3 linked regions of the Homo sapiens genome follow. Each later gene encodes a partner of the first gene's protein in a complex. Each region holds a gene or a part of one and is shown in the gene's direction. Other genes may lie near its edges. The genes, in order: ORC5, ORC4 and ORC2.

Region 1 (10,333 bases):
TGGTAGCCAGGGTGGTCTTGGAAAATGTAATATTTAGGCACAAAAACTGAAATGCCAGCCCTTACCTAGGTCTGTGGGCTCAGACTTGGAGTGGAGCACTAGCCAGGGACCATGGCCTTCTCTGCCCAGCACTTCCCTGCCCCCCTCCTGTATCACCGACCCTTTGGGAGGCCAAGGCAGGAGAATCACAAAGCGAGGAGTTCAGGACCAGCCTGGACAACACAGTGAGACCCTGTCTCTACAAAACAATAAAAAATTGTTTTTTTTTTTTTTGTAGGCACATTTAAAAAATGTGCCTGTAGTCCCAGCCACTTGGGAAGACTGAGTTGAGAGGACCACTTGAGCCCAAGAATTTGAAACTCCAGTGAACTGTGATCAAGCCATGCCACTCTAGCCTGGGTAACAGAACGAGACCATATCTCTAAGAAAAAAAAAAAAAACAAAACTAGGACTCTGACAACTAGTCTTGGTTGTTAGACTGGAAAACATATGTACAAATTTGTATTTACAGATTGCAAAGTAGTCATTTTCTTTGCAGACGTTTTTTGTGATTCAGTTATGTATCTTTATCAGACTATAAGATGTTTCAGAAACAAAAGTATTACATAATCTTATTAAAACAGTTTCTTATAAAAATGTTCTCTTTTAGATTACCTCTCTAGTGACCCTTCAGCTGTTAACCCTGGTTGGCCATGACGATCAGCTTGATGGACCAAAATACAAATGCACAGTGTCTCTAGACTTCATCAGAGCTATTGCAAGGTAAAATGTCTTGAATTATGTAATGATATACTAAATATAAAAATTAGTGTTTTCCAAATGTGATGTCATTAGTCATGACATTTAAACATGAAAAAATCATCTATTTAAGTGCCAAGAATGAATAAGCTGTACGATAGAATGAACCTTCTCAAATTTACAAATGATGTAAAACTGGGAGAAATAGCTAATATGTTAGAGGACAAAAATCAAGATTCTGAAAAACCTTAATAGGCTGGAATAAATGATCCCATAGTGGCAAGGTAAGATTTAATGGACAGTTGGCTACAGAAAACTCTCTTGTATTGAAATAAGATGGGAGAGAGCTGGCTTAAGTCCTAAATTTTTTAGCTGACTACAAGGCTTTAAAAATCCTGACTTAGGTAACACTGATAGAAATATAGTGTCTAGGTCAGGGGACATAATCATTCTACTGTGCGTTGTCACAGGCAGATCAAATCTAGTGTGCTGTGCTGTGTTTAGAGTTTTCAGAGAGACAAATGGATACATACTGAAGGGGCACGAGGAGAGTGGTAGAATGAGGAATTGTGTCACATCCCTGACTGAAGGACAGAGTGTGAGAGAAAAGCCTTAGGAAGGACATGTGAACTGTCTTAAGTGTTTCAGGGGCTGTCGTGCAAAATGAATGAAGCTAATTCTGAGTAATTCTAGAATGTTAGAAGTTCTGGGGAAGAAAGTACATTTGTCAAAATGAAAGCTGTCTAAAAATACAAGTTTCCTTACAAAGAGGTGTTCTTAGTGTTATGGAAAATGTTCAAACCATTTATATGAATAAGTGACTTCATCATACGGTTGCAGCTGGATAACAATCTGTCAGGACTGTAATGGAAGAGGTGATGAGTGTGTAGACTGGCAGAGTGAACAGGGCAATCCATAGACAGTGTGTTCCTAATCTTTTTCAATATGAAGATTCCATTTTAGCACCCTTTAAAAATTAGTCATGAAAGTATTTACATATATTTCAAAATTAACAGTATTTAGGCATGAGACATTATTTTGTTCAGCCTAAAACAGTGCTTGATATCAGTATAGATTTGCAAATCTCCTCTGATGATTAATTTTACAGCTTCTTGAGGTTCTGAAGTCCATAGGTTGGCAGCTTCTCCCTGAAGTCTCTTCTGAATTCAAAATGCTCTGAAAAATAAATAAATAATAAATTATTGAATGAATGGCCAGGTGCAGTGGCTCAGACCTGTAATCCCAACAGTTTGGGTGGCTGAGGTGGGAGGATTGCTTGAGGCCAGAAATTCAAGATGAGCCTGGGCAACGTAGTGAGACCCCCGTCTCTATAAAAAATGTTTTTAAGTTCTGTGATAATATGATGCAGGTATTTACCACATTTTTGTGGCATATAGGCTGTAAAACATGAATTCAAGGGTTTTAGTGTTTCATTTTAATAAAACCAGGAAAACTTTTACGCAGAGAAAATTGAGCAGAAACTTATTTTTTAGTGTGTTAAGTATAATCACAAAGCAATTACTTCCTTTAAAAAAGCAATTATATTGGAACTTTATATCTAAGAGCCTCTATCCAAGGCATAAATTTGGAGTGAAGCCTGTTCATTTCAGGGATTTTATTACTCTGAATATGTTAGGTTGTGCCCCAGTATAATCATGTGCAAAACAGAAGTTTGTGGGTTCCTAATATAGTGAATCTCCATTGAATCTGACTTAATTTGACGTTACTTAGTGCAGAGCATCACAGTGATGGATGTTAGACACATCCAGAGACATGCACTTTCATTTACCACCTCAGAAGGAAGCAAGAACTTTAGACCTGGAATCTTGACATAGAACTTGGGGGCTCTGTAACTTTCTTTTGTTTTCTTTACTGTTCCCTACTTCCCATGGGCAATATCCATAGAATAAGCACCCGCTCCTCCCCACACCTGCCCTCTTCCATTCTCTCATCCCTGTGTTTTGTACTTCTTTTCTGCTGACTTTACCTTTCATTCTTTCCCTCCCTCCCATGTGCCTTAGGAATTATTATTCTCCTAATAGTCTTCCTCATTGCCTTAGCTAAAACCTGATTCCTTCTTTGGGATGCTGCTTCCCCTGGACTTACCTCTAGTTGTAGCTATGTATTTTCTCAAACCCTAATCCCTCAGGGTTGGAGGTCATTTCGGTGCCATCCTTCTTGTTGCCACTTCCAGACTGTTACTGCCCCCAACTTCTTATAAAAATGTGGACTTCCTTGAGACTCATGCAATCTGGCTCTATTTCCCTATTCTCCTTAAGACTGATTTTTGTCTCTTCAGCCATTCCACCTCATGTATTGAGATAATAGGGCACCTGGTATCCAGACTTCTTTTCCACCTAATTTTTTTTTTTTTTTTTTTTTTTTTTTGAGATGGAGTGTCTTGCTCTGTCGCCCAGGCTGGAGTACAGTAGTGCGATCTTGGCTCACTGCAACCTCTGCCTCCCGGGTTCAAGCGATTCTCCTGCTTCAGCCTCCTGTGTGGCTGGGATCACAGGCACACACCACCATGCCTGGCTAATTTTTAGCAGAGACAGAGTTTCACCATGTTGGCCAGGCTGGTCTTGAACTCCTGACCTCAAGTTGATCTGCCTGCATCGGCCTCCCAAAGGCCTGGGATTACAGGTGTGAGCCACCGCGCCCAGCCTCCACCTAAATTCTTGACTCTGTTTAAACCCCACATTCTAACGCCTGAGTTCATTCTGTTCAGTCTTCACTCTGTTTCACAGAACAAGGTTGAAGCCATCAACTGAGAATTGAGCTACCTGTGTTAGTGTCCATCTTCTCTTTCTTTCCTTTTTCAGCAGGATGGGGTTCCTCTTCCTAAGGTAGATTCTTCTACCTATGCTCTGAATTCCATCTCCTCCACTTTCCCAGAACCTTTGTTAGTCTCGGCTGTTTGTCCTCTCAGTGGCACCTGACACTGTTGGCTACTCTTTCTTAAAACTCTCTTCTCTTAGACATGATTCCACAGTATTCTGGTTTTCCTCTTTATTCTTTGGTTGTTTTTACTAACAAAGGCTATCTTTACCATCTGACCTTTAAATATAACTGTTCCTTTAGGCTTGGCCCTAGGCTCTTTTCTCATATTACATTTTTTTCCCTAGGCAACTTGAGCCACACCTGTGACTTCAACAATCATCTGTGTATTAATAATGCCCCTGTTTTTAAAGACCAGACCTATTTTTTATAATATTCTTGACCTTTATTGCTGTTTCCCAGCTATATTAATACATTTCCAAAACTGAACTTAGGAATTCTAACCTCTGCTTCAACCCACCAACAAAAAGTGAAATATCTGGCTTTCCTCCAGTGTTTCTTATTTCAGTGATAAGCACTGCAGTCTGCTGTGTTACCCAGGCCTGAAATTTGAGTCCTTCTTGACATCTCTCTCTCCCCCACTCCTAATATTTAACCATTAGTCCTATTGAGCTTACAAAGCCCCTCTTATTTGTCTCAATTTCATTCACTTGTTATCATGATACTTTTACCACTCTAGATCAAGCCACCATCATCTCTTCTCTAACAGTCTAATTGATCTTCTGTCTGCTCTTATCCTCTTATAATTTATTATCCATGCTGTAGCCAGAATGATTTTATAAAAATTTAATGTCACCCTGCTCATTAAAAATATTCAGTAGTTTCCCATAGCTCTTGGGATAAATAACAGAATCTTTTAAATAACTAACAAGGCCCAAATGATCTGGCCCCTACCTGTGCCTAGCCCCATCTAGCACATACACCTTCTTTCCTCGGTATCTGCACTTTAACCACTTTTTTCCATTTTTTATATTCACCATTCTGCTTCCCATGCTTGTATATACAGCATTTTCCAGCTTCTTTTCTCCTTCACCTAGCTAACTGCTACATAACCTTTAGATTTCAGTTTAAATGTCTGCTCCTTAAAGACGCCTTCTCACAAATACCACAACCACCATGATCACCCCCCCATACCACACACACACACGATTTGGAAGTTCCCATTTTGTTCTTCATTATATGTAACAAGTTTTACTTAAATAATTGAGTAATTAGAGTTCATCTTTCTTTCTAGAATACAAGCTCCTAAGCTCAAAGCAGACTGTGTTTATGTCTATCACTGCCTTATCCTCAAACCTAGCACAGTGCTTTAAACTTAGTATGTGCTAAATAAATATTGCATGTTTTCCTATAGTGATTAGCAGTAAAAATTCAGATGAAGGGGAACCATATGAATTTGTTTTTGGGGACAGCAAGAAGGGAGCTCAGAGACAGTCTCATTCCAAATCAAGGCTTGATGGGAGAGGAAGTCCCAAGGATAGTTACCAAAGAAAAGGAAGGCTGGCCTCATTCCAGACACCTGTGGCAGAGAACAAATGAGATAATAGGGATCACAGGATATAACCTAAATGTCTAAAATGGCAGTCAATCAATAGCATCATGTATTTTTATAGAGTTATTGAAAATCACACTTTTGAAGGATAGTAACTTGGGAAAATAACTCATGATGTAAGCTTAAGTGCATGTAACAGTTCATATAAAGTTGCATATACAAGAAAACTAGGAAACTGTAAGGGACAGGAGTAATGGTCAAAAGTCAGTTGTCACCAAGAAATCAAGCAGAATCCTCTGATTTACTGATAAAGCAGTCATTTGTAGCTTTATCCAGAACACTTTCAGTGGTATGATGAAGTAGAAGTCATATTGTAGTATTTATGAGAAAGTAGATGTAGCAAAGAGAGATAATGTTTTTCATTCGTTTATTTAACATTTATTGTGTTGCCCATTATAAACAAAACACTGTGGTAGGCTTTGGGGAGATACAGCAACAAGTATAACATAGCTATATCCTATTCTTATTAGCCTGTATTCTAGGATTCATTTATTTACTTATTTATTTGCTATAAAGGAGAGAGAGTATTTTTTTTTCTTTTTTCTTTTTCTTTTTTTTTTTTTGAGACAGAATCTCACTCTGTCACCCAGGCTGGAGTGCAGTGGCACGATCTCGGCTCACTGCAGCCTCTTTCTCCAAGGTTCAAGTGATTCTCCTGCTTCAGCCTCCCGAGTAGCTGGGATTACAGGCGTGTGCCACAACGCCCAAATAATTTTTGTATTTTTAGTAGAGATGGGGTTTTGCCATGTTGGCCAGGCTTGTCTCAAACCCCTGACCTCAGGTGATCCACCCACCTCGGCCTCCCAAAGTGCTAGGTTTACAGGCATCAGCCACTGTGTCTGGCCAAGAGAGAGGATTATAACTGCTGAAGGGGTTATGTGGTTGAGAGAGGGTTATTATTTATTTTTTAAAGATTTGAGCATATTTAAATGCTGATAGGAAAGAACAGATAGAGAAGGAGAGTTAATGATACAAAATGGAGAAAGATTAATTTAAAGCACAAAATTACTGAAACGTTATATAAGCATGGGGTTTAGAATTTGAGTTGCAAGAGCTGTAGATGAGAGAGCGGAATCTTCTTGCGTTATAACAAGAGAAAAAGATGGATTCTGATGGAGCTGAATTTGGAGGTTTGGTGGCAAAAAGTTGAGGGAGTTCTGATCTGATGAATTCCATTTTCTCCGAGAAGGAGGAGACAAAATTGAGACTAAGGGCAGAAATAGTAGCAGTTTAGAGAAATCTGGAACATTTGAAATAGCTGCCATGGGGAATGGAAGAAACTGTTGAAAGGAAAGCAGTTTGTTGGGAGTGTTGAGGTTTTTGACCTTGAATTTACTTACAATGGCACCAATCTGTGAGACTTGTGATCTTCTCCAACACCAATCCATGTGCTAGAGACTGGGACAGCAAAGAATTATAATCGAAATCACATCGTACTGGGGTTTTGCCAGGTAAGTTCAGTGGATTCCAGCAAGTAACCACTTGACCTGATGAATCATGGAGTCTTAAGCTAGGACGGGCAGGAAGGAAGTAAAGCCAGTCGGGGGCTAATAATTCAGTGCCTAGCATATAGATACTCAGTTAATGTTTGTAGATCAGGAAAAAATGAAGCCATTTGTGAACTGATTGTCCCAACATGTTCCAGATAGCAAAAAAGGGATAAATTGGGGATCATAAGGTAGAATGTCTGAATTTATTTCTTTAGAAGTAGAGCATTTCTGAGTGTGATTATGAGAGTGGAAAAGGTTATTGGAGGTAAGAAAGAGAAATATATAGTGAAGTCACTAGGCTGACGCAGGTCTTGGGTTGGAAAGGAAGACTGAACTGTATGCTAAATTACTCAGTGACTAAGGGATGGCGACAAAGAGGATGGGGATGGTGAGCAGAATGGTCTTAATCTCAGAGTAGCAGAGCTTTTTGCACAGGACACCAGCCCCACCTGACAGAACTGTCCGGGGGTACAGTAGAGAGTTAAACATTCATTGGAAGGAGCTGAAGAAAAGACTATGTCCTTTGAGGGGAGCCTAGTTTCAGTTAAGCCTGGAAGGGGAAAATAACCATTCCTTGAAGAGATAGAGGATATAGAGACTACAGTGGAAAGGTTTGGACAGAGAAGCTGTAGGAAGCTGATTCTAGAAAGGGAACATAGAATTTGGAGATAGAGTATGGGAGAAGGCAGATAACAGATGACTGAAAAGCTTACTAAATTTTGTTCTTGGATTGTTCTTAATGTGAATGGTAGTTACACATTTTCAATTGTTTTTCTTCCACAGTCAGTGGGAAGACACTATAAGATAAATAGAGGTTACAACTTAAAGTTGTATGGTTGCAAGTTGTCAGAAAAAAAAAAAATTAAAAAAATCTCAAACTCAAACTGCCCACAAAAGTAAAAGGAAACAAAATAGTATCCTAAAGAAAGAAAAAGTATTTTAATGAATCAACAAAATGAAATAAAAGGATAAAGGCAAAATTAAATCCTTAAATATATGCCATATAATTAAGTTGTATTAACGTATTCTAAATTCTGATTTAAGAATTACTCCTAGGAAAATTGCCACCACACTATTCGTGTTTACTGTATTTCTTTCCAGCTGGTTACTTTAGAAAATAATTCATTTATGTTCTGTGGGAGAATCTCCCATAGTATATTGAAAGTTATCCCAAAGTTTAAAATTATACTTACGTGACTATAATATGCATCTGTGACCATGGAAAGCCAGGGAACATCCATGCAAATTACACAATTCTCTTGTAAGTTATACCTTTCTTTAAAGAGGATTGTTTGTCTTCAAGTACTTTAAAGCACAAAATTATCTTTCGGATGTGTGGCATAGTTTTTTATGTTGCCCCTGTGATTATTCTAACAAATTCTGCCATGTCTTAAAATAATATATGTGAGATCAATTGGCAAGTTACCTATTTATATTGGGGGTGGAGGAATGGTAGAGATAGTGATACATCTTGGGAAGTAAATGTTTCTTAAAGGAATGATTTTATATTCAATTCCTGATCGATTTTTTTTAATCTAAAACTCTTACTATGATTCAGTTTGCATGAATACTTACCACTGACAAAGTACAGAAAGGGAATATAATGAAAGTTTTATGAACATTTAAGTTGCTTAGTGTTTTTAAGTCACTCCATTCATTCTATTAAGTCTGTTCTGTTATTTATTTATTGTACAAACTATTCTAATGCTATAGTAACAAACAGATTTCTCAAAAAATAGAGAAGTCCTACAGACATCACAATATTTTCATGTATTTGTGCTCTTCTAGTACTAGTCCATTAGACAAACATTTCTCTGCAGCCGTCACAACTTACTTGCAATTATTTCTTCTCCCTTTCTCCCTTAATATTGCTGGTATATCTTCATATTGATCATTTTGTATGGCTGTATAATATTTCATCAAATAATGTATTGTAATTTATGGATTCTCCTAGTTTTGGAATTTAAGTTGTTTTAATCTTACCTGCTTCAAAAATTTTGTTTTCACCCAAGTCCAGAAAAAAAAAAAATTAGCAACACAACATTAAGTCCATTTTACCATATTACTTTAGGTTTATAACCTAAGACCCAAAGTCATTGTGGAGAAATGTGCCTGGAGAGATGTACAAATACCACTTGCCTTTTCTGTCCGTGGTTAAAAGTAGTCTATAGGTGGGAACTGAACAATGAGAACACACGGACACAGGAAGGGGAACATCACACTCTGGGGACTGTTGTGGGGTGGGGGGGAGGGGGGAGGGATAGCATTAGGAGATATACCTAATGCTAAATGACGAGTTAATGGGTGCAGCACACCAGCATGGCACATGTATACATATGTAACTAACCTGCACATTGTGCACATGTACCCTAAAACTTAAGGTATAATAATAATAAAATGAAGTTTAAAAAAAAAAGTAGTCTATTATATCCGTTTCCTTTCTATGGTCCTCTAAATAAGATCTTTTCAATCAGTATCACGATTTTTTAAAAACCATGTGTTGGCTGGGCGCGGTGGCTCACGCCTGTGATCCTAGCACTTTGGGAGGCCAAGGCGGGCAGATCACCTGAGGTCAGGAGTTCGAGACCAGCCTGGCCAACATGATGAAACTCCATCTCTACTAAAACTACAAAAATTAGCCAGGCGTGTTGGCACATGCCTGTACCTTCAGCTACTTGAGAGGCTGAGGCAGGAGAATTGCTTGAACCGGGGAGGTGGAGGTTGCAGTGAGCCGAGATCATGCTATTGCACTCCAGCCTGGGCGACAGAGCAAGACTCCATCTCAAAACAAACAAAAAGAATCATGTGTCAAAAGTACTTTGGTGCCCATAAATTTGGGTGTTTCTAGAGTTGAACGAAAGAAAAACATATAAAATAACTTTATGATTTAATAACCATACTTTTTGCGTCTTTATGCAAAAGATTTTTTTTAAACTTTTTAGTTCTGCAGTATTGTTTTGGCAGTTTTATACCATTTGGAAAGGCTTAGTATTCTTCAGAGGCACTGTTACAATGAAGCAAGTTATTCTTCAGTCCAACATTAGGTACCACAATAGCCATAGCATCTCTTTTTAGCTATTTTTAAATGTGTTTTCATAAGCAGTATCTATAGTTTCCCATTCCACATTTTAAAAAATATTTGATATGTCAGTCATTTGCTTAGAAACTTTTTTAGAAAGTATATTGCAAAATGATAGACAAAAACATTAATTGATGATGGTTTAATAAATAAGAGCATGCAATTAGTGAATCTTTAAAAGGCTGTTCTCACATGGATGATTATTTTTGCAGAATTGAATACTTAAGGCTTTAATTTTATACTTATTGCTAGATCATTATATCCAATTATTTTGACCATTTATTCAAATAATAAACCAAGTCTGAATATTTATAGTGAAGAATGAGTTTTGTGAAAGGAGAATAATTATATGTCTCTCTCTCTGCTATTTTATTCTGCCTGCCATCAGAGTACAAAAATATACATTCACATCATCTGTTTGTTGTATCATATTCTTGGATCATACAGATTTAGTTACAATACACACACAGGTCAGCCAGCGTTAAAAGACTGAAAAGAATGAAAACTATAAATGAGGACAGATGAGCTATGCATTATGTAATGACAAAACAGGTGTCTCGGAAGATAAACAATGTTCAGAAGCAAAGAAGATTTAAATACTTTTGAATCTCTAATTACTTTATTCTGGTTATTAGA
Region 2 (10,644 bases), on another chromosome or scaffold:
GTACATTAAACTTAATCCTATATATGTAATGTAGTAATTATGAAAATGTATGATAGAGTCCAGAAGGTAATGTGTATACATACACCAAAGCACAAGACAATATAAACTTCCCATTTTTTATGGGCTTTTACACCATCAACACATTTATATTAAAAATTTTATAGTAAATATTCATTGGATCAGAAATTGTTATAACCTTTGAACTTCATATAAGAAAATATTAAATGTAACTCCACACAAGTTAAAGGAAGTTTAATACAGATAAGGATTGAACTGAACTTTTTTTTACTGTTTTTTTATTTGTTTATTTATTTATTTAGAGACAGGGTCTCACTCTGTTGCTCAGCACAGAGTCCAGTGGCATGATCATGGCTCACTGCAGCCTCAACCTGAGTTCAAGAGATCCTCTCCAGCCTCCTGAGTAGCTGGGACTACAGTGTGCACCACACCAAGCTCAGCTACTATTTTGATTTTGTAGGGATCAGATCTCACTACATTGCACAGGCTGACCCTGAACTACTAGCCTCAAGTGATAAATCCTCCTACCTCACCTCCCAGTTGTTGGAATTACAGGCTTGAGCTATTCCACCTGACCTTATTTTTTATTTTTAGAGACAAGGTCCCGCTCTGTGGCCTAGGCTGGATTGCATAGTTCGCTGCAGCCTCAAAATCTGGGGCTCAAATAATTCTCCCGCCTCAGCCTCCGAGTAGCTGGGATTACATTACAAGCGTTGAGTCACCATGAGCAGTTCCCAAATGTCATTTTTGCCATACAAAGAAAAGACTGACATTATGTATATTTTAAATTGTACAATGGTCTGTATCTACATTCCTTATAAAAGACTGGGTTTTTTTTCTTTGTTTTTCTGTACTTGTAAACTTTCAGAAATTTTCCATTAGTCTGTGAAGCTATCAGGGCCATAATTTTACCATCGCTTACCAGTGTACAGATTGATAAAAACTCTACTGTGACTGTGTTTTGAATTAGAAAGTGTCATAAATGTAATGTGAATTCAATTTATCACAGTGCTGGGTACTTATAATCAATGGTAACTATGATTATTACTAAAATAGAAAGTTAAGAATGAACGTGAAAGAGATCAGAATTCACCACTCAGGAGTCTATTTATCTTCACAAGATACTGCACCAGCAGAGGCATCCCCACCTTCTTTTTAACTGCAAATCAATACTTTTGTAAAAGGTATACTTTAAGAAAGGCAAATTTAATCCAGTACTTTTTCTAATATACTTTTCGATTACACATGAAAGCCATGACAGGAACTGAGATAAGATTCTTTGTTTTTGAAACATCTATCTACTAAGAAAATTCCAAATCATTTTACTAAAGCTATAGAGATTATACCACTTAATAAAGATTAAAAATTACAACTGACTTAGAACTAGAATTGGGAAGTTTCTTATGAGGATTTTGCAATGATATTTCTACTACATACTAAAAATTCCAAAACTCCTAAATAGTGCACACTAATTACTGCAGAATAATTAAATCATGCTGTTAGATTTGCTAAAATTTGGTAGAAAATATCTGAAAACTCAAAATGAAAATGTACAATGTCTTCCAATGAATCATGAATGATAATCTGTTATATGAGATAAAAAAGAAAAAAGTTACTTTTGAGAAAAAGATTTAAGTTTAGAGGGTTTGGGGTGTTTTTTTTTTTTTGGAAAAATTTAATGAGATAACTTAATGAACATTGTTGGTCATCTTAAAAGAATTACGGTTAGCAATAAAAATCCAGCAAAGGCAACCACATAGGCTATTTTCATTGTCTAAAATGTGTTAACTATATACAGAATATAAATCCCTAGAATACAGTATTAAGTGGAAAATTTTTCTTTATATATTTGTATTTTAATAAAATAACAGCAATATCTTTCTTAAACATGCATTTTTCCACCTAACAGTATCCATTTAGTTAATATAAAATTTATTTAGGTAGAAACACCAAAACAAAGATACGACCAATACACTTGTGGAATACAATTAAGATAGCTCTTCACATTAAACTGCAGGGACCATCTTTGTTTTTCAGATGCCTAGCACAGTGCCTGGCAGACAGCAGATGATCAAAAGATGTTTAATGAATCGCTAAGTACAATCTGTTTTGCACATACAGTCAAAATCCAGACAAGTTTGCAAAGGTACATAAGTTGGATATAGGCTTTCTGGCTGACTTCATGGGGGTCCCACTGATGACTAGGAGTAAATCTTCATATCCATAGAAAACTGGAAAGTTGATAATTGTCTGGGTAAGGACCAAAAAAACAAAGTCAGGGAAACATGTCACCTAAGTAGCACTTGTTTTATAGAGCTGGTAAAAGCGGCCTAATCATTCCAACAACCTATTGCACCGGTCAATGAAATTTAAGTGCATCCTGAACAATTTTTACAAGTATATTTTTAACTGGAATGTGTTGGATCATTATTGCTTATTCATAATATATCACTTTTGCCAAACTGCTTCCTGTATAAGAAGGGAATATGTCTTGTTACTATGAGTACCATATTGTTAACAGTATTTAATTTGGCTGTTAATTAGATAAAATGAGAGCCACAGTAGAGATAAAGAAAAAATGTTCATGATAGTGAAAATTGTGGCAAGGGAGGACAAGAAAAGGAGAGGAAAGGAATTCCACATATGGAAGTAAAGAAATTCAAATATGCCTAACTCTAAAACTAACATGGATTATGACAAGCTACCAGTAGGAACTACTGTGTACCAGATATTGTGCCAAGAGTAGAAGGATGTGTTAACAAAACAAAAATGTTTGTTTTTAGGCAGTTCATAGGGCAAGACTCACAAGTAAGCATTTATAAGAGAATATGCATTCCATTTATTCTTATAAGTATGGGCCCTTAATACAACAGTAAGTATATTTACTGATTAATTGTAAGTGCAGGAGGAAAATAAGTATTAGAGAAAGCTGAAATTATTTTCAAAATAGTAATAACCTACAATAAGTGCAATTAGTACTTTAAAAAATTAACAAATTACTAAATTTAAGTAGACAAAATAATAGCTTTAAAGCCATTTACCTTAATATTCTTACAATAACATGCTCCCATATGAAACCCTCAAGTGGTATACCCAGAACTGTACATAATAGTTTCATTTCTGACAAAGGAAATGAGGTAGTGCAGCATAGTGAGCATCAGGAGACCTGAGTTCCCTGGTCCCTGCTCTGTCACTTCCAGGCCTTGGAACCTCAGGCAAGTTCAAGTTCTTAGAACTTCAGCAATAGGTAGAGTTGGATAAAGTGACCTCCAAGATACCACCCAGTTGAACAATTACAATCCTAAAGTATCAATGGTTCTTAATACTTAAAAAGGTTTTCTAAACATAAATCATTATCCAACTTAGATAAAGTCTGCAATCTTCTAACCATAAAGGATCATGGGGGTGAGGGTGAGGGGTGTGATAAAAAAATGTTTAAAAAAAAAAAAGAAACAAAATAAGGAAAGACATTAAACTCAAGACTAAATTTTTACTCAGCTGCCTACTGGGCAACTACCACCCCAATTATCTACATAATTCCCTTACCTAAAATTAATTTCTTCAGTAAGTTCTACTGTCTCTCTCTTACCTTTAAAGTTGCTGAGGTTTTAAGGTGAGAACAAGAAACCTTACAAGGACTTGGAATGGCAGTATTGATGTTGGGAGAAAAACTTGAACTTGGCACAGATTTCTGCTTAAGTGCACTAATTACATCTCAGAGAAAGGTAAAAAATTGTTCAAATTTATAACAGAAGGGAAATAAGATCATATTGTTTACTGCTATAAAGCTTTTTTATTTCGGTATGTAAATGTCTACTTTTGCACACAGTTGATAATTAAAATTTTACAGAACAAGTTTCTACATATGCAATGCTTCACTGTCACTAAAATATATGTTTTAGCTTTAACCATCAAGAAAATAAAAAATTAGAAGTATTATCATGTCTTTATAATATTTTTGCCAAATATCCTTCTAGATTTATATTTCTTCAATCCTTTCTAGTTGATCAAATTGCTGTTTTCATATTGCCAGTCTGATCACAAAATTGCTGCTTTACAGAAGAATATTTTTTGCTGACATAAATTATGGGATCAGAGATACCAATGCAGTTACAAAAAAAAAAAAAAGGGTGTGAGGGAGAGAGAGCGAGCGAAAGAGAGTGTGTGTATATGCATGTGTGCATCCATCTTCAAGGAAAGAATAAAGAAATGTATATATGAAACAAAATAACACTTTCCAATATAAGCCCTAGTAAAAGGCCTACATCAGAAACATACTTTCTAACATTTGTGAAATAAAATACAGCACTGAATTTTAAAGCTATGCACTAAGAACACATTATACAAAAATGAAGTGATTTTTATCAATATTGTTATTCCATAAACTTAAATCTGGATTTACCTTTCAATTTATAGCTAACTGAAATTAATATACTAACTATAAGTTCATGATTTCTTTGACTCATGAAAACATATTTTAGAAATTTGTGTACTTTTACATACAGTGGGCAATTTGGTTCAGAACCCCAAGAGAAATTGAGATGAAAAACTCATCTCAATTTACAACAGTAAATAAATAATTCAGCTAAAACTGAAAGTGGTACCAATCCAGCAAACTATTGATGGAGAGGTTTGGCCTTCCATGCAGCCAGAACAACATAAAGTTTTCAATGGGGATTACTTGTTCAGACAAGTTACAAAGATTACAAATATACCCAGATTAATTATAAAATAGCTAATATTCTCATCATATGGAAAATAAGTATCAGGAACGTATGTGGGAACAGACAATAGCAGTGGCATTTAAACTTTAAGCATTTTAGAGCTTTGGACTTTATATACTGATATATGAAACAGACATTTAACCAAAAAAAAAGCAATAATGCAAGTCAAAACCTAACCAAAGGCCTCTACCAACTAAAAATTTGAAATTTTCCATGGAAGTCAGACAAAACGAAAAAATGGAAAATGAAACCCTTAAAGCAAAAACCAATCAAGTCTTCCAACACTGAAGTCAATATCCAAATCTCATACAGGACCAAAAAGGGGAAAACACTCAGGTCTACAAATGGATAAGCAGTTCCAATACAATCCAGATCCCGACATTTTCCCACTCAGAAACAAATGCAGTGGAGCTTTTCCTGGAGAAAAAGAGCTCTCCAATGAATTTTTTTTAAGTGACATCTAGAAAGTGTGCCTCTTTCTGTCTCTTTCCCTGGCGCCTCATTGGAGGAAGGAGGGGGTTGTTTTTGTATTCTCCCCCACTGGAGCAAGACACAATCAGATGTTAGATGGAGGAGAGAAACCACTTTTGACAACAGCAAATAAAAATAAAAGTGCCCTTCCTCCCCTGACAGGATGGGCACCCCACCTCACACACCCCTCCCTACTCCAACCCCTCCTTCACCCCCCCCAGCACCACCCCCTCCTCACCCCGGAGCTCCACTGCGTATGTGGTTTGGTGCTACTGTTGCCCCGGAGTGAAAGTCAGAGCCAGAGGAAGGCAATGAAGCCCCCACAGACACACTTACCTTTCCTGCCCCCCACTTTTGAGTGCCTTCCCTGGAGCTGTGGAGGATGACACAAAGGGTAATAAAGGGGGGGAGTGGAGGAGGAGGAGGCGAAGGAGGAGGAGGAGAGCTGGGGAAGTGGCTGCTCCTGGGTGTAGTGAGATGTCTCCAGCCAGGGCCAAGCAGCAGCAGTAGCAGCAGCAGCAGTAGCAGCAGCAGCAGCAACAGCAGCAGCAGCAGCAACAGCAGCAGCAAAGGGTCTGTGTTGCTAAGAGGCTTTTGGTTTCTTTCTCTCCTCCTCTCACGGCCAAAGAGGAGGAGGGTGGAGGGAGGGAGGCGAGTTGGAGGGGTGAGGGGGTAGGAGTCGTGGATGGGGGTTTTCGAAGAAGAAGAAACTCCTTCTCCTCTCTCAGGCTCAATCCCCCTCTCAGGGCTCAGGGCTGGAGGGTGGGGGAAGGAACTCAGCCGCCTTCCCCCCACCCCCCTGAATTCAAGGTTGAAGTGGGGTAGAATTAGTGTCCTGTCCCTTTAAAAATAGAAATAAAAGGTGCCCCCCCTCTGCCACTGCCTCTCTCTTCATCATCAGCTGCTGCTGCTGCTGGGGTCTCTCTGCTTGGGGGGGAGGGGGGGTTCGGGTAGAAGAGACGGGAGGCACTCACTGCGCATGTCCCTCTCTGACGGGTGGCTGGTTGGTTGAAGGCAGGAGGAGGGGGAGGGGAGGAAATGAGCTATTTTCCCAGAAGGCGTCGAGGCGCTAGCGACCCGGAAGACATTGTAGCGGGAGGTACAGGAGCGGGGGCGGGGAGGAGGAGGAAGTCGCTACGCTTTTAACACCCCCAGCTCCCTCCTCCTTCCTAAGGGAAAGTGGAGGAACGGAAGTGGGCGTGGACGGAGACGAAAGGAGGTCACGTGTTTGGGCGGGAGAGGGGCGGGGTGGGAGAGGTAGTGCGTGCGCGGGGCATGCCGGGAGTGGTTGTGTACGGTCCGCAGCGGCAGGTGAAGTCTAGCAGAGGACGCGGCCAGGCGATTCGGTGAAGCGATTCCTGCAGGCGTTGGTTCCCCTCTTTGACCTGGTAAATGCAGGCTTTTATGCGAGAGGTAATGGTGGGGGTAAACTTGCTGCAAACGAAGGCCAGGGGCGTCGGTGGCGCAAGGTGAATCGAAAGTGGGAGGATGGAAGGCTGTGGAGATTGGGAATTGGGAAGGGGGCAGGCTTGTATAGGCCGGGAAGGCCAGGACCAGGCGAGCTCCGTCTTGTGGCCACTCCCGCCCCGTGAGCTTGCCGAGGAATCCTTGACAAGTGCAGGGATCCTGAGTCTACCTCTGCATCGGGGTAGTAGGTGAGGAGCGTGACGGTCCGAGTGTAAGAGAGAAGGGAACTGTGAAGCCTCAGCAATTGACCCTCATGACTGCAGGACGGAGGACTTCTATCTAGGGACAGAGACAAGTCCTCTGTATGCATTTTGACCAGATGCATCACACGCGTTGCTCATATTGGATATTGCGCCCTTCATGCCTTACCTCTCAACCCTCCCTGGTATTCTGGAGTGGCTTTGGGGAAGGAGCAGGCAGGGAAGTCTTGAGTGGAGCTTCCCTCCATGTCTTGCGTTGTTGCTACAACACAAAGCCTTTGCTTTTTCTCGGAGAGGGATGTGGGATTGTGTAGTCCTTAATGTTGAGTTCTACGATTGATGAAGGAGAAGGGACGTGATCAAAGTTTCCCCTTATAGTGTAGATGAGAGTTTTAAAAGGACTGTTTTGTCAAGTTTCTTTGGTTACTATTCTTAGTTTTTGAGCCTTTGGTTTCCCAAATGCCAGCTGTTTTTGCTGAAAATAATGAATTTCTATCATAAAATTAGAATTAACTCAAAATATTTAAGAAAGGATTTATAAATTTACATTAGTAAAGCTTTTATAGTGAAACAGTGCTGGTTCTTTTTCATTGTTTTCATACAATCAATATAAAGCATCACAGTCTCAATATGTTTTGTAAAGATATTTTGAAGGAATATCATCTTTGTATGTTTTTTAAAAACCAAGAATCTAAAATTCTTCGTATTTATTATGTTGGTACTTAATTCTGTTGGGTGGGTTCTTTTTGTTTGTTTTTTGTTTTGAGACGGAGTCTCGCTCTGTCTCCCAGACGAGTGCAGTGGCGCGATCTCGGCTCACTGCAACCTCTGTCTCCTGGGTTCAAGCAGTTCTCCTGCCTCACCCTCCCGAGTAGCTGAAACTACAGGCATGTGCCACCACGCCTGGCTAATTTTTTTGTGTTTTCAGTAGGGACGGGGTTTCACCATGTTGGTCAGGCTGGTCTCGATCTCTTGACCTCAAATGATCCTCCCGCCTCGGCCTCCCAAAGTGCTGGGATTACAGGCGTGAGCCACCGCGCCCGGCCGGTGTAGGTTCTTTAGGTGTACACTATCAGTTAAAGTTACTAATTTTCCACGTTTTGCTTTCTGTAAGTTTGGGCAGTGGACCCCGTTTATGCATCATTGCTTAGCCCTTAGTATCTTCTGTATTGTGTACGGTAATCATGTCCGATGGAATCAAAACTAGACTCCTGTGCTTTAAAATTTTCTTTGTAGTGTAACCAATTGTCTGTCTTTATAGTGTAACCAATTGTCTGCCACTTTGTAATGAAAAAAAAAAATACCAGCAAGGCAGTTAATGTGCCTTAGCTACAATTTTAAATATTTTGTGTCTTTTTCCATACATTTAGTATTTAAGCATACAAACATCGATACATAGTATAATGAAAAACTATAAAGTGTGAACTCTATGTAAGCGCTGCCACAGTCAAGAACTAGAACGTCTGTGGCACCTGAGAAGCTCCCCTCTCCATTCTATTCCTGATCATCCCTTTCCTCAATTCTTTTCAGTGGTTAACACTATACTGATTTTTATGGCAATCATTTACTGCTTTCTTTCTTAGTATTTCTTAACCACCTATGTCAGCATTCCTAAGCAATTTAGGTTCGTTTTGCCTGTTTCTTAATTGTATGTAAGTGGATTATATATTACATATCATTATGTATCTTTTTCTCTCATGCAGCTGGGATATAACTCTATTAGTACATTTAGCTCTAGTTCTTATATTGGATTGTAGTAATCTATAGTATAATAAGTATAGTATAAAAAGTCTTAATGGAAATGAGCCACAGTTTAGTCTAATATTAATAAACATTTGGATTGTGTTCCGTTTTTAGTAGTTATGAACAATGCTATTATGAATGTTCTTGTACATGTATTCTTAATGTACATTACCATGGGTTTTTGTAGAGTACGTATGTTTATCTTCAACTTCACTAGTTATGCCTTTTCCAAAGTAGATACACCAATGTATACCCCGACAGCAGTATATGGTAGATCCCTTTACTTTTACTGTCTCACCAAGAGTTATTTTTCCTTTTTCCCAACTTGATGAATGTGGCTTTATCTTATTGTTGTTTTAATTTATTCTGCCCAGGACACTAAAGAGTTTGAGCACTTTTTCAAAAACTTACCGGCTATTTGAATTTCCTCTTTCTAGAATTGTCTTTTTAATTCTTAAATCTTTTGTGCATTGTCTTTTTAAATCTTTTTGGGAGGTTTTTTTGTTTGTTTGTTTTTTGTTTTAATTGGGTTGTCTGTTTTACTCAGGGATTTCTAGCAGTATGGCCAATATCTTCTCTGTGCTTGGAGCATTACTCTCTTCTGGGATGGCAACTTTTATCTTCATGTAGGTCTTATAGGCTGTCATTGTTCTTTGAATTGTATACGTAGTTTAAACTCCAGATAACAAGTTCTATGCTTGTGCTATTCATTGCAGTAGCTACTAGCTGCGTGTGGCTTTTGAGCACTTGAAATGTGGCTAGTATGACTGAGGAACTGAATTTTTAGTTTTATTTAGTGTTCAATTAAGTTTAAAAACTGACACTTGATTCAGTTACTGTAAAACCTGTATGTTTGGAACAACTCGGATACATAAACCTTTCTTAACCGCAAATTATTAAATTATTATTTTTTAATTTTTGGAGATTTTTTCCCCCCTGGAGATGGAGTCTCGCTCTGTTGCCCAGGCTGGAGTCCAGTGGCATGATCTTGGCTCACTGCAACCTCCGCCTCCCAAGTTCAAGTGATTCTCCTGCCTCAGCCTCCCTAGTAGCTGGGATTACAAGCATGTGCCACCACACCTGGCTAATGTTTTTATTTCTAGTAGAGGCAAAGTTTCACCATTTTGGCTAGGCTGGTCTCAAACTCCTGACCTCAAGTGATCCACCCACCTTGGGCTTCCAAAGTGATGGGATCACAGACGTGAGCCACTGCACCCGGCATTAGCTGCAAATTATATAAAAATATAGATCAAGTATTTTATATGGCAGTTTTAATTTAGCATCTGCATTGTAATGTTGTATAAACACCATATTTCAAAGACAGTATGAAAACAATGTAAAATACCTCAGCTTTTCATTATGATTACATGTTGAAATTATAATTGATTTCACCTTGTTTTCTTTTAGTGTGAACAATAGAAAATTTTAAATTACTTATGTCACTTTTACTGTATTGCTGCTGGACAGTACTTTGAGCTAGATGTTCCTATGTGTTTACCATGTCTTAATTTCTTCCTGCGTCTCTGACTTTTCTTTTGGAATCTTTTAACTTTTACTTTAGCACACTCAGTAGAAGTTTCATAATGCAGACATTCTGATGGTCAGTTCTCTTAATTTTTTTGCTTTGTCTTAATTTTTTGTTTTGCCTTCAATCTTGAAGAATGTTTTGGGGGATATTACAGATTTGTGGTTGTTTTACTTGTACCTTGAAGATAACATTTCACTGTTTTTGGTTTTCATTATTGATTTTGAGAAATCAGCTGTCAATGCATTAGGTTGGTACAAAAGAAATTGTGGTTTGGGACAGCGAATTTTAAATCATTATAACGAGGCTCTAACATATCTTTATTAATTAAAATAGGTCATTACAATCAACACATTTTTGCCGACAAGAAATAAGTTTGTTTTTTCCTGTAATGTAAAAATCCATGCTTCAGGATTCCACAAACTCTTGGAAAGCTTTTTCCTGCATCCTGCTGGTTGTGGAAGCATTTTCCCTGAAAAAAGTTGTAGAGATGCTT
Region 3 (10,333 bases), on another chromosome or scaffold:
GCTTTTATGTATCATGTTCTGTTTCTTTTGCAGGGGGAAGAGGGCAGTGTTGTGCAGTTTGATCCCAAGATGCATTAGATCCATTACTCTATATTTTTATCTCCTCCTTTGTGGGGTTTTTTCTTTGTTTGTTTGTTTGTTTTTGAGACGGAGTCTTACTCTGTCGCCCAGGCTGGAGTGCAGTGGCGTGGTCTCGGCTCACTGCAACCTCCACCTTCCAGGTTCAAGTGATTCTTACACCTCAGCCTCCTGAGTAGCTGGGATTACAGGTGTGCACCACCACGCCTGGCTAATTTTTGTATTTTTAGTAGAGGCAAGGCTTCACCATGTTGGCCAGGCCGGTCTTGAACTCCTGACCTCAAGTGATCCATCCACCTGGGCCTCTCAAAGTACTGGGATTTCAGGTGTGAGCCACCACGCCTGGCCTCCTTTGTGTTTTTGTGGTATAATTTTCTCATTATGCCTTTTCAAGTGGTGAGTGTTCCATGAAAGGGCCATATATGCAAAGCATCCCCCAAATGCCAAAGGAGCCAAGAAACCAAAGGACAAGGCAGACAAGTTTAGTTTGTCTGTAAAGGGTATTTTATTAGAGACAGAAGCATGGTCTTGGGCAGCCACAAGACAGGTAGCTCTCTGCAGTGTTACTCCCCAGACCCACGGCTTACCTACCATAAGGAAAGGGTATACATGTTCCAGCAAGATAATTAAAGGCAACCCTCTTTAATTGTCAAGAGGGCAAGAATGCTATATGCATTGTAGCCAGTAATTTGTGTGATAATATCAAGGTTGACATGTTCTTTCACAGAAGGCAGTACATAAAGTAGGAATCAGGAGGCATTCATGAGACTGGGGCTAATCAGAAGTTAACGTGATGGATTAGCATCCAAGATGGAGTAACTTTTGTCTCCACAGTCAGTATAGACATTTAAGGCCATGGTTATGGCCTGTGCAGGAATGTCCTATTTAGACAAGTCTAGGTATGGGATTAGACATGCCAGACTTTCATTTGTCTTTAATAATGCTTTTTTCTTATGTCTTGTGTGTTCTATCACTATAAAAGGAAAAAAACTCATTGCCATAATCTAATCAAGAATTTAGATTATTCTTTCTCAAGTTATAGATTATAACCCATTAGAAGATATTGTCAACTCTCCCAAAAAACCAGAAAAACCTGTTGATGAAACAAAGCTACCTATCACAATAAGAGACAACATCGTTGTGACAGAATCTTAGTGTACTGTCTTAGAAAAGCAAGTTCAAGAGAAAATATGTATCGGGCTTGGGGATCCTGGGCTCAAGTGGCTTAAAGCAGGTTTTTCAAAATGGTAAACTGATTGGGATTGGGCAAAGTTAGGGACATGATATTTTAGGATTGGTAGACACAGTGAAGATCGTGTCTTAAAGTGTATCTTGATAACTAAACTGTTGATAAGATAAGCTGTTTGCCCTAGGAGTAATCTGTTGTCCTGATAGGGAGAACAGTTTGCCCAAATGAGCAAACTGTCAAGAGAGATTAGTTTGCAGAAATGTTCTATAGCAAGTAGGAAAAAATTATTTATTAGTCTTGTCTTTTTGAGCAGGAATTTTCTGCAGTGGTTATTTTGACACAGGTGTTGTGAATTCTCAGACTTAAGCTGTGTAGATATATATAAGTTATCTCAATACTCAATCTTGAAATCAGTTTAATAGGACATAAACTGCATTTTTAACAAATGAAGTAGAACAGAATTTTAAATTTCTGTTTTATAATTTTTTTTAGTTATATATACACGTGTACTGGGTCAAGATGACAAAATGTAAAAATTTTTGAGGATCTTGATCAAAAAATTTGAGACATACTGTAATTCCATTGGTAAGGGATTAGCTCAGTTATTAGAGTACTATTCTTTTTTTTTTTTTTTCCCCCTGAGGAAGAGTTTCATTGTGTTGTCCAGGCTGGAGTCCAATAACGTGATCTCGGCTCACCGCAACCTCCACCTCCCAGGTTCAAGCAGTTGTCCTGCCTCAACCTCTCGAGTAGCTGGGATTACAGGCATGCACCAGCACGCCCGGCTAATTTTGTATTTTTAGTAGAGACGGGATTTCTCCATGTTGGTCAGGCTGGTCTCAAACTCCCGACCTCAGGTGATCTGCCCGCCTTGGCCTCCCAAAATGCTGGGATTACACAGGCATGAGCCACTGTGCCCGGCCTAGAGTACTATTCTTAAAATCAAATCAGATTTTAATGACACCAGCAATCTATCACAAGACAATAAACTTAAATTTTTTTGTCATATTGTCATGTTGACAAAATCACAGGGTACTTTAACTTTTTTATCAGTACTATTAGAAATTTACAGGTATATAACAGTGGATGTTTTAATGTGCTAACAATTTATGGTATTAAAGTATTCTATAAAAAAACAGACTTTGTACTCCTACAAAAAGTTACAATTTTTTAAATACAGAAAGTAAGAAAGTGTAAATCTCTCCTTCTCTCCTCAAAGAATGTAATACTTTAACACCAGTAAATTTCTAGCACATTAAAAGGCCCATTGCCATATACATAGGGGTGCCCGTTCCCTTTCATACTTATGATTGCTACATAATACTATCTTTTAAAAAAATACTCCATTGGGCCGGGCGCTGTGGCTCACACCCATAATCCCAGTACTTTGGGAGGTTAAGGTGGGCGGTTCACTTGAGGTCAGGAGTTTTGAGACCAGCCTGGCCAACATGGTGAGACCCTGTCTCTGCTAAAAATACAAAAATTAGCTGGGTGTGGTGGCACGTGCCTATAATCACAGCTACTTGGGAGTCTGAGGCAGGAGAATGGTTTGAACCCATTTGTCATAATCTTCTAGTTCTAGGAACTAAGCTCATCTAGTTCTAATGCAGTCTATTGAAAGCAAAATATTTTTCTTTTTTTCTAGCCTCTTTCACTCAGATCAGTCATTAATTTCCATGTTATTATTTAATGCTTTTTCTATTTCTAAACAGAACAATGACAAAAGTGAATTTCTGTCAACAGCACCTCGTAGTCTAAGAAAAAGATTAATAGGTACGTATTTGTTTTTACATGACTTTTTATAAAAAGTAGCATCTAAACAAGAGGCAATAATAGTTAAGTATATAGGTTCTAGACTTAGACTGCTTGGTGTTTTGAATCTTTGGCTTTTAGTTGCAACACTTAGCACCATGTCTTTCACATTGTAGTCAGTGTATATTGAAGTCAGCTAAAAGGTCTTTCCAATGAAATAACATGCCTTTTAATTGTTTTGAGACAGTTTGGAAATTATTCTATTGATTTATTTGGAAATTTTATAATGAAATAATATTAAATATTCATAGTTGTACTGAATGCTAAACAAAGTCAAGTAAACAGACATGGCTTCTGCCTTCTAGGAAATTAAAAATCGTTTCAGATTTTTGAATATTGAACTTTGAGGCAAATGACTGGACCTTTATATATCAGGAAGATGTCAACACCTTTCATAATGTTGACCCTTGACAATAATAGTATTAGTCAACATTGTTAAATTCAGCCTAACATCAGGGCTTCATACTTCATAGCCCTTTCTTTTCAAGGTATGGATTTCATAGAGTTGTTAAAACTGTATTTTTAATCACCATAAAATTGGTAATGCTAAATGATTTGGTATATTAAAGCAGTAAAAGATCTGTATAGTTGTGATTGTTATTTCATGTCAACTATATCCCATGTCTTATGTTTTCTCCTCATCCCAAATATGGGTTGTTTTTTAGAGAGAAGGTGAACTTCCCTCTTCCTTCTTAATCACCACAAAACATATATACCTACATGGAGGAAGCATACATGTAAAGAAGGTAGAGATACTTTCTGGTACCTGCCACCACTTCTAACTGTGCATGTACCACGAGCAGCAGTCAATGCACACCTGAATCTGCTGAGCTATATATGCCCACAAAATCAAGCCTTTTTTTTTCTTTTTTTTTTTAATATCTACATTTGTTACATGCTGACTTGGGATAATCCTCTGCAGTATATCTGTTGTTCAGAATAAATATGCTGATTTGTTTAAGTTTTTTCACTCATATTTTGGAAGTTAGCTTTTAAAAACAGTTTTATGCCTGTTTAGTGTGAAACTGGCTTTATTCTTATTTGATAAATGTAAAACTAGCTATATTATTTCTGGGGAGTTGTAGGGATGAGGTTGTGGTTTGTTTAAAAAGACAATTCTTGAATCAACTCTGGGATGGTGTATGTGTATGTATTAGTAATAATTATAATCATAAGTACCATTTATTGAGTGCTATATTAGTTAGTATGACGTTTTCAGTAGGCAGCAACAGAAAATTCTATAATGGTAGTTTAAGCCATAGACATTTAAGTATCTCACATCAAAACAAGTATGGAGATGCAAGTTCCATGGTTGATGTGACTTAACAGTATCATTAAGGACCCAGATTCTTCCTATCTTTTACTCTGCCACCAGCATTTTTCATCTTTAGGTTTGATACTTCATATTGCAAAATGGCTTTCATAGCTTTAAACGATGGGTATAAATAGGGGCTTTTCTTCCGTAATTGAGGAAAATCCTTCTCAGAAGCTGCCAGCTATTTTCCCTCAATTCACTGGTCAAGGGGTCACATAGTCAACCATAGTTGGAGCAGAGGCTGGGAAAGCAGGTACCTTGAAGAGGAAAAAGGCAGTTACCATGATTCATCCCCTAGGATGGGGCATATTGCCATATTTTGCAAAATTGGAGTTCTGTTAGCAAGGAAGAGGGAAGGAGAACGGTGTTAGGTATGATTAACAATTTCTATCACAGTTCCTGTGTGTCAGGAATTATTAGTGGCTTTATATACATTTCAATGTAATCTTCCTAATGGTTTATTAAACTATGTACTATTAATTTGATAAATAAACTGGTGCTGAGAGAATTTGTTAATTAGCTCTGGTGAAATCATGAGCAGGTAATGACAAAACCAGAATTCAGACTCTTACTACAGAGCCCCCACTCTTTGCTTTACCCCACAATGCCTCTCTTGTCAAACCATGAAATTGTCCAAATTGCTATTTTTCCCCCCACAGTTCCAAGGTCTCATTCTGACAGTGAAAGCGAATATTCTGCTTCCAACTCAGAGGATGATGAAGGGGTTGCACAGGAACATGAAGAGGACACTAATGCAGTCATATTCAGCCAAAAGATTCAAGCTCAGAATAGAGTAGTTTCAGCTCCTGTTGGCAAAGAAACACCTTCTAAGAGAATGAAAAGAGATAAAACAGTAAGTGAAGAGAGAGACTTTAACCTTAAAGAAAAATTGTGTAATATTTCAAAGATAGGCTACCCTAAGAGATCCACATCTCTCAAAATAATATTTTTTCTTCACTTTTCTATATTTTCTCAGCCTTCCACATAAATTCCCACATATATTTGTTTCTACTTCTGGGCTTTCTTTTCTGGCCTGTCTACATATTCATGAATTAATACCATAGTATATGCTAAATAGTATATGCTAAAAGTGACATCTCAATTCCACTGTATAAAAATGAACTTTTTAGGCTGGGCACAGTGGCTCATGCCTGTAATCCCAGCACTTTGGGAGGCCAAGGCGGGTGGATCACCTGAGGTCAGGAGTTCGAGACCAGCCTGGCCAACATGGTGAAACCCTGTCTCTACTAAAAACACAAAAATTAGCCAGGTGTGGTGATGTGTGCCTGTAATCCCAGCTACGCGGGAGGCTGAAGCAGGAGAATTGCTGGAACCCAGGAGGCAGAGGCTGTAGTGAGCCGAGATCATGCCATTGTACTAGCCTGGGCAATAAGAACGAAACTCCGTCTCAAAAATAAATAAATAAATTTTTAAATAAGCTATGGGATTAGAATAAAAAATAACAAAAATAAAAAATGAACTTTTAAGTAAATATTGATTGGACAATTGGAGGCATGAGTTCTCAGTGTATCTTGTTTTTGTACCATTGTCAATGTATTCAAGTCAGTGTAATGAATGATGTGGCTAGGGACCCATGTTGAGTCATTTGGAAGAACATTGCAGGCACCTTGGTTTTAGAAAAGGCTAATTATCCTGGTGCTCTGTCTAAAGGTTCAGAGCAATTGAGGAGCCTACTGCTTAAATAGCTTTCTGTCCCTTCCTTACCACCCTAGAGTTTAGTCCTGCCCAAAATCAGAAGAACAAATAGTGTGAGAAGAAAATTCCGCTTGACTGGAATAGTAGGCCAGTTTTTTTATTTGTTTGTGGGTTTCTTTTTTTTCTTTTGTTACCTTGCAGTTGATTTCCTCATTTTCACAGTACTTCAGCTATACTAATATTAAAGGATTTGCTAAGACTATTTGAAGCCAGGCATGGTGGCTCATGCCTGTTATCCCAACACTTTGGGAGGGCAAGGTGGGAGGATTGCTTGAGGCCAGGAGTTTGAAACCAGCCTGGATAACATAATAAGACCCTGTCTCTGCAAAAAAAAAAAAAAAACAATTTAAAAAATTAGTCAGGTGTAGTGGTGCATGCCTGTAGTCCCAGCTACTTGGAAGGCTGAGGTAGGAGGATCCCTTGTGCCCAGGAGGTTGGGGGTACAGTGAGCTGTATTTGCACCACTACACTGCAGCCTGGGTGACAGAGTGAGACCCTTCCTCAATAAAGAAAGGAAAAAAAAAAGACTTACTTGAGGAGAAACAAAGATCTTGATATATAAAACCATCTCTCTTTTTTTAGTCTAAATGGAAATTACATATTGTAACTTAGGAATCATTTTTAGGAACAGACTACTACTTCACCTAGTCATTTCTTTAACTTATATGATCCTAGTAATTACTCAGTTTTATTACTGAAATTAAATATGCTTGGTCCTTAACTGGTACTGTTGCTTTAAAAAGAAAATACTACCAAGTAAAGAATTTCACGTGTCCTATTTTACATTAATATTACTGTCTAATTTTGATATGAGACAGATATTTGAAGCTACTAAGGACTGACTACTCTGTTCACTTTCAGAGTGACTTAGTAGAAGAATATTTTGAAGCTCACAGCAGTTCAAAAGTTTTAACCTCTGATAGAACACTGCAGAAGCTAAAGAGAGCTAAACTGGATCAGGTATGTTACAAGGAATGTTACTTCTAAATTTTTTTTACTCTGTCCTGAAAAATATGCTACGTAAGCAACAGATTTGAAAAGTATACACAAGTAGAATTATTGTCCTGATCAAATGAAACACAAGTTAATGTGATTATTACTTCTTTTATTATATAAATAGTAAATAGGCCGGGCACACCTGGCTCATACCTGTAATCTCAGCACCTTGGGAGGCCAAGGGAGGAGGATTATGTGAACACAGGAGTTTGAGACCAGCCTGGGCAATATAGGGAGACCTCGTTGTTACTAAAAATTTAAATAAATAAATAAATAATTTACTGGATTAGACAGACTGTAATTATGCATTTTTCCCCTCTTACTCGTTTATTATTTCTTCAGGATCTATGATAATCATCAGGGTCATAGTTCCTTGATATCCATTTACCATTTATCTCTGTTATTCATTTAACCTATATGTATTCACTAAATCTCACACTGGTCATAAAACAGCAACTGCAACCTGACTTTCTCTCAGTTAAAAACTTTGCACAAAGTAGAGGATATTCTGCTTGAGGATATTATGGAAAACCTGCCCAGTGTGGTAAGGTAACAAGATTACTATGTACCATGGTTCCAGTAGCTCATTTTACAAAAAAAAAAAAAAAAAAAATACCATACAGTTATACTTGCTGGGGTTTTACATCTCTGTGAGAGGAGACAGAACCATCTGAGTGAGAAAATCTTTGTCAGTAATAATTGCAATTGATAATCTAAGTCCTGGCTCATTGGTATTGAGACTCGGATCAGAGAATATAAGCAATATGGGAGAAGGACACATGAGTCTAGACTCACAATAGGACTTCATCAGACTTAGAGGCAAAAAGATCTCTAGGAGGATGAAAGAAACACCTGTCAGTGAGGGAGACGAAAGCCTTTCATTGGGCGTAAACATAGCATAGCTAACCAATACAATCTTCAGTAGCATGTGACAATAAGCATTTTTCATGTCTGCAAGTCAGTCAGAAGTTGGCTGATCTAGGATTTGCTCCATGTTTCTTTTCCTCGTTGGACCAGCAGGCTAGCTGAGGCATGTTATCCTCATGACAGTGGCAGAGGCATAAGAGGAAAAGTGGGAAAACACACAATCTCTTACAGCCCAGGCTCAAAACTAGATTGCCAGTTCTGCTTCATTCTAGTACAGCTGGATATTGGGGTCGAAAGTGCAGTTTTCCATGAATATTAATTAAAGTTTGAAATGAGGCTGGGCATGGAGGCTCACACCTGTAATACCAGCACTTTGGGAGGCCAAGGCGGGAGGATCACGAGGTCAGGAGTTTGAGAGCGGCCTGCCCAACATGGTGAAACCCCATCTCTACTAAAACTACAAAAATTAGCCAGGCGTGGTGGCACGCGCCTGTACTCCCAGCTACTCAGGAGGCTGAGGCAGGAGAATCGCTTGAACCTGGGAGGTGGAGTTTGCAGTGAGCTGAGATTGTGCCACCACACTCCAGGCTGGGTGACAGAGCAAGACTCTGTCTCAAAAAAAAAAAAAAAAAAAAAAAGTTTGAAATGAAAGTACATACATGAGATAACATTCTAGTGTTCACACTCAAGTGTGAATATGCTCAGATAATCTAGTGTAAATGACTGCTGGAAAAGATATTAGTGCTTTCTCTGCTTTTTCAGGGCTCTGAACTCAGAAGAGATAAGAGTTGTTTTTTTTTAACTACCTACTTAACAATTTTACTTAAAGGTAGTTCTGTTTGCTTTAACTGTGACTAAATAAACACAGTACAAGCCAGAGTACCTGGAATATTTATCGCAACTCTAATCTTCAGTATTTAAATAATATTTTACTTGAAAGGTGGTGGAATCATGAAAACATGGTAGTGCCAAAGTGAAGACCCATGTGTAGCTTTTTGCTAGAGTTTTCATTTCAAAAAATGATCTCTGATTCATCAGCATGAATTTCCAAGTTTGGGGTACAGGGCAATGCACTTTCCTCAGTTTATTTATATTATTGTTTTTAAAAATTTGCAATACTTACCAAAGATAAAGGATTTGTTAGAAACAGCTTTTGGAAGAGGAGCAGTGATATAGGTTTATTTTACTAATGATAATAGTAAGTAAATTATAAAGAACCTTTAATGTTTTCTGAGAAAGTAAAGCCTATTCTTGGAGTTTATAATCATTTAAGTGGTTCTGGACAAAACTTACCAAATTCTTTACTGTTATTACTAAAAAGAATGTTAACAATTTTAAGAAAACAAAAAAATTATTTTTTAAGAATTTTGTTTATCGGTTGATATACTCATTGCCAAACCAGATTAAAGTAATATTCCAATTGGATTGGCTTCTTCTAAGCTCTACTTCTAAGGAAATTGTTTGGATTGATTTGCTGTCTGTGCTTTGAGAATGACTTTTTTCCCCTCCTCCTTTTTTTTAAAGCAAACTTTGCGTAACTTATTGAGCAAGGTTTCCCCTTCCTTTTCTGCCGAACTTAAACAACTAAATCAACAGTATGAAAAATTATTTCATAAATGGATGCTGCAATTACAGTAAGTATTATCATTACAAACCCTTGTAAAATAAAGAATAATATTTACATGAATCTTTATGTTAAAGTAAGTTAACATTTTTCTTTTTACAGTGAGTTTCAGATATTTAGTCATATATAAAAATAAATGTAAAAATAGACATTATGACTCAGATATAGAAATGTCACTTTATTGTATGACTCTTCCCAGAAATTCTACAGTTTTTAAGAAATTTGTGTTTATCAGACTTGACAGCCATTGATAAGATAAATAGCATTTCTTAGAATTATGTTATTGGTTTAAAAAACTTGAATATTTCCTTTGTCAAGATTAATAAATATAACAATTAGAAAAAAAAATTATAAAGTTTTCCACAGCATAGTTCTTTAAATGAAAGGATAATATTTACTTTAATCTTATGTATGTGTACTACAGACTTTCAGAATTTTATGAACAGATTTGTTCTATAAGCATTATTTTACTATTTTAACATTATTTCCTAGAATATTTTTTCACTGTTATTATTTTCACACACCTCAGATTAAATTTTAAATTTCCATTAAAACACCTAGAAGAATGATTGAAATCAAAACATAATACTTTCTTTTTATGATAATTACTTTTATCCTTGCAGTTAAAAAGACTTGAACATAAGGAAGTGCTTAAAATGTACACTAATGTGAATATACATGCACACTCACAGTTACATTGTCACTGAGGTAAATAAGAAGGTAGAGCCATGGACCA

What was found.
Region 2: the proteins of ORC5 (region 1) and ORC4 are in contact, whole or in part, in a cryo-EM structure (PDB 7JPO), measured with the Homo sapiens proteins. Residues at the interface, in NP_002544.1 of Homo sapiens: Ile17, Ser20, Leu21, Phe22, Gly23, Glu24, His26, His27, Phe28, Ser29, Phe30, Pro31, Tyr36, Gly37, His38, Thr39, Thr98, Phe99, Asn100, Val103, Arg104, Arg131, Glu134, Asn136, Pro139, Gly140, Arg143, Gln145, Glu146, Leu147; in NP_001177808.1 of Homo sapiens: Ser18, Gln21, Arg22, Arg25, Glu26, Cys29, Arg30, Gln31, Arg69, Thr74, Asn100, Leu102, Leu103, Gln104, Ile105, Ile109, Glu113, Arg116, Asp162, Arg277, Met281, Met284, Leu285, Asn288, Met311, Asp312, Ser313, Lys314, Asn316, Ile317.
Region 3: the proteins of ORC5 (region 1) and ORC2 are in contact, whole or in part, in a cryo-EM structure (PDB 7JPO), measured with the Homo sapiens proteins. Residues at the interface, in NP_002544.1 of Homo sapiens: Asp324, Lys325, Phe328, Leu329, Leu359, Asp360, Arg361, Ala364, Tyr367, Ser368, Ala378, Asn379, Phe381, Ser382, Gln383, Thr385, Ser386, Thr389, Asp400, Gln401, Leu402, Asp403, Tyr407; in NP_006181.1 of Homo sapiens: Val240 (codon at 6,981), Glu241 (codon at 6,984), Tyr243 (codon at 6,990), Phe244 (codon at 6,993), Glu245 (codon at 6,996), Ser248 (codon at 7,005), Asp396, Gln398, Arg401, Gly402, Glu403, His426, Asn428, Ala429, Pro430, Leu431, Met432, Trp433, Asp434, His435, Gln438, Trp445.

The regions. Positions count from the first base shown.
Region 1 is NC_000007.14:104,127,210-104,137,542, reverse strand, and holds part of ORC5 (origin recognition complex subunit 5), read left to right. Parts: intron 1-649; coding exon 650-762; intron 763-10,333. UniProt on the Homo sapiens protein: Component of the origin recognition complex (ORC) that binds origins of replication. DNA-binding is ATP-dependent. The specific DNA sequences that define origins of replication have not been identified yet.
Region 2 is NC_000002.12:148,016,590-148,027,233, reverse strand, and holds the start of ORC4 (origin recognition complex subunit 4), read left to right. Parts: upstream 1-6,496; 5' UTR 6,497-6,601; exon of another isoform or gene 6,602-6,626; intron 6,627-10,644. UniProt on the Homo sapiens protein: Component of the origin recognition complex (ORC) that binds origins of replication. DNA-binding is ATP-dependent. The specific DNA sequences that define origins of replication have not been identified yet.
Region 3 is NC_000002.12:200,930,613-200,940,945, reverse strand, and holds part of ORC2 (origin recognition complex subunit 2), read left to right. Parts: intron 1-2,979; coding exon 2,980-3,040; intron 3,041-5,053; coding exon 5,054-5,247; intron 5,248-6,971; coding exon 6,972-7,070; intron 7,071-9,497; coding exon 9,498-9,607; intron 9,608-10,333. UniProt on the Homo sapiens protein: Component of the origin recognition complex (ORC) that binds origins of replication. DNA-binding is ATP-dependent. The specific DNA sequences that define origins of replication have not been identified yet.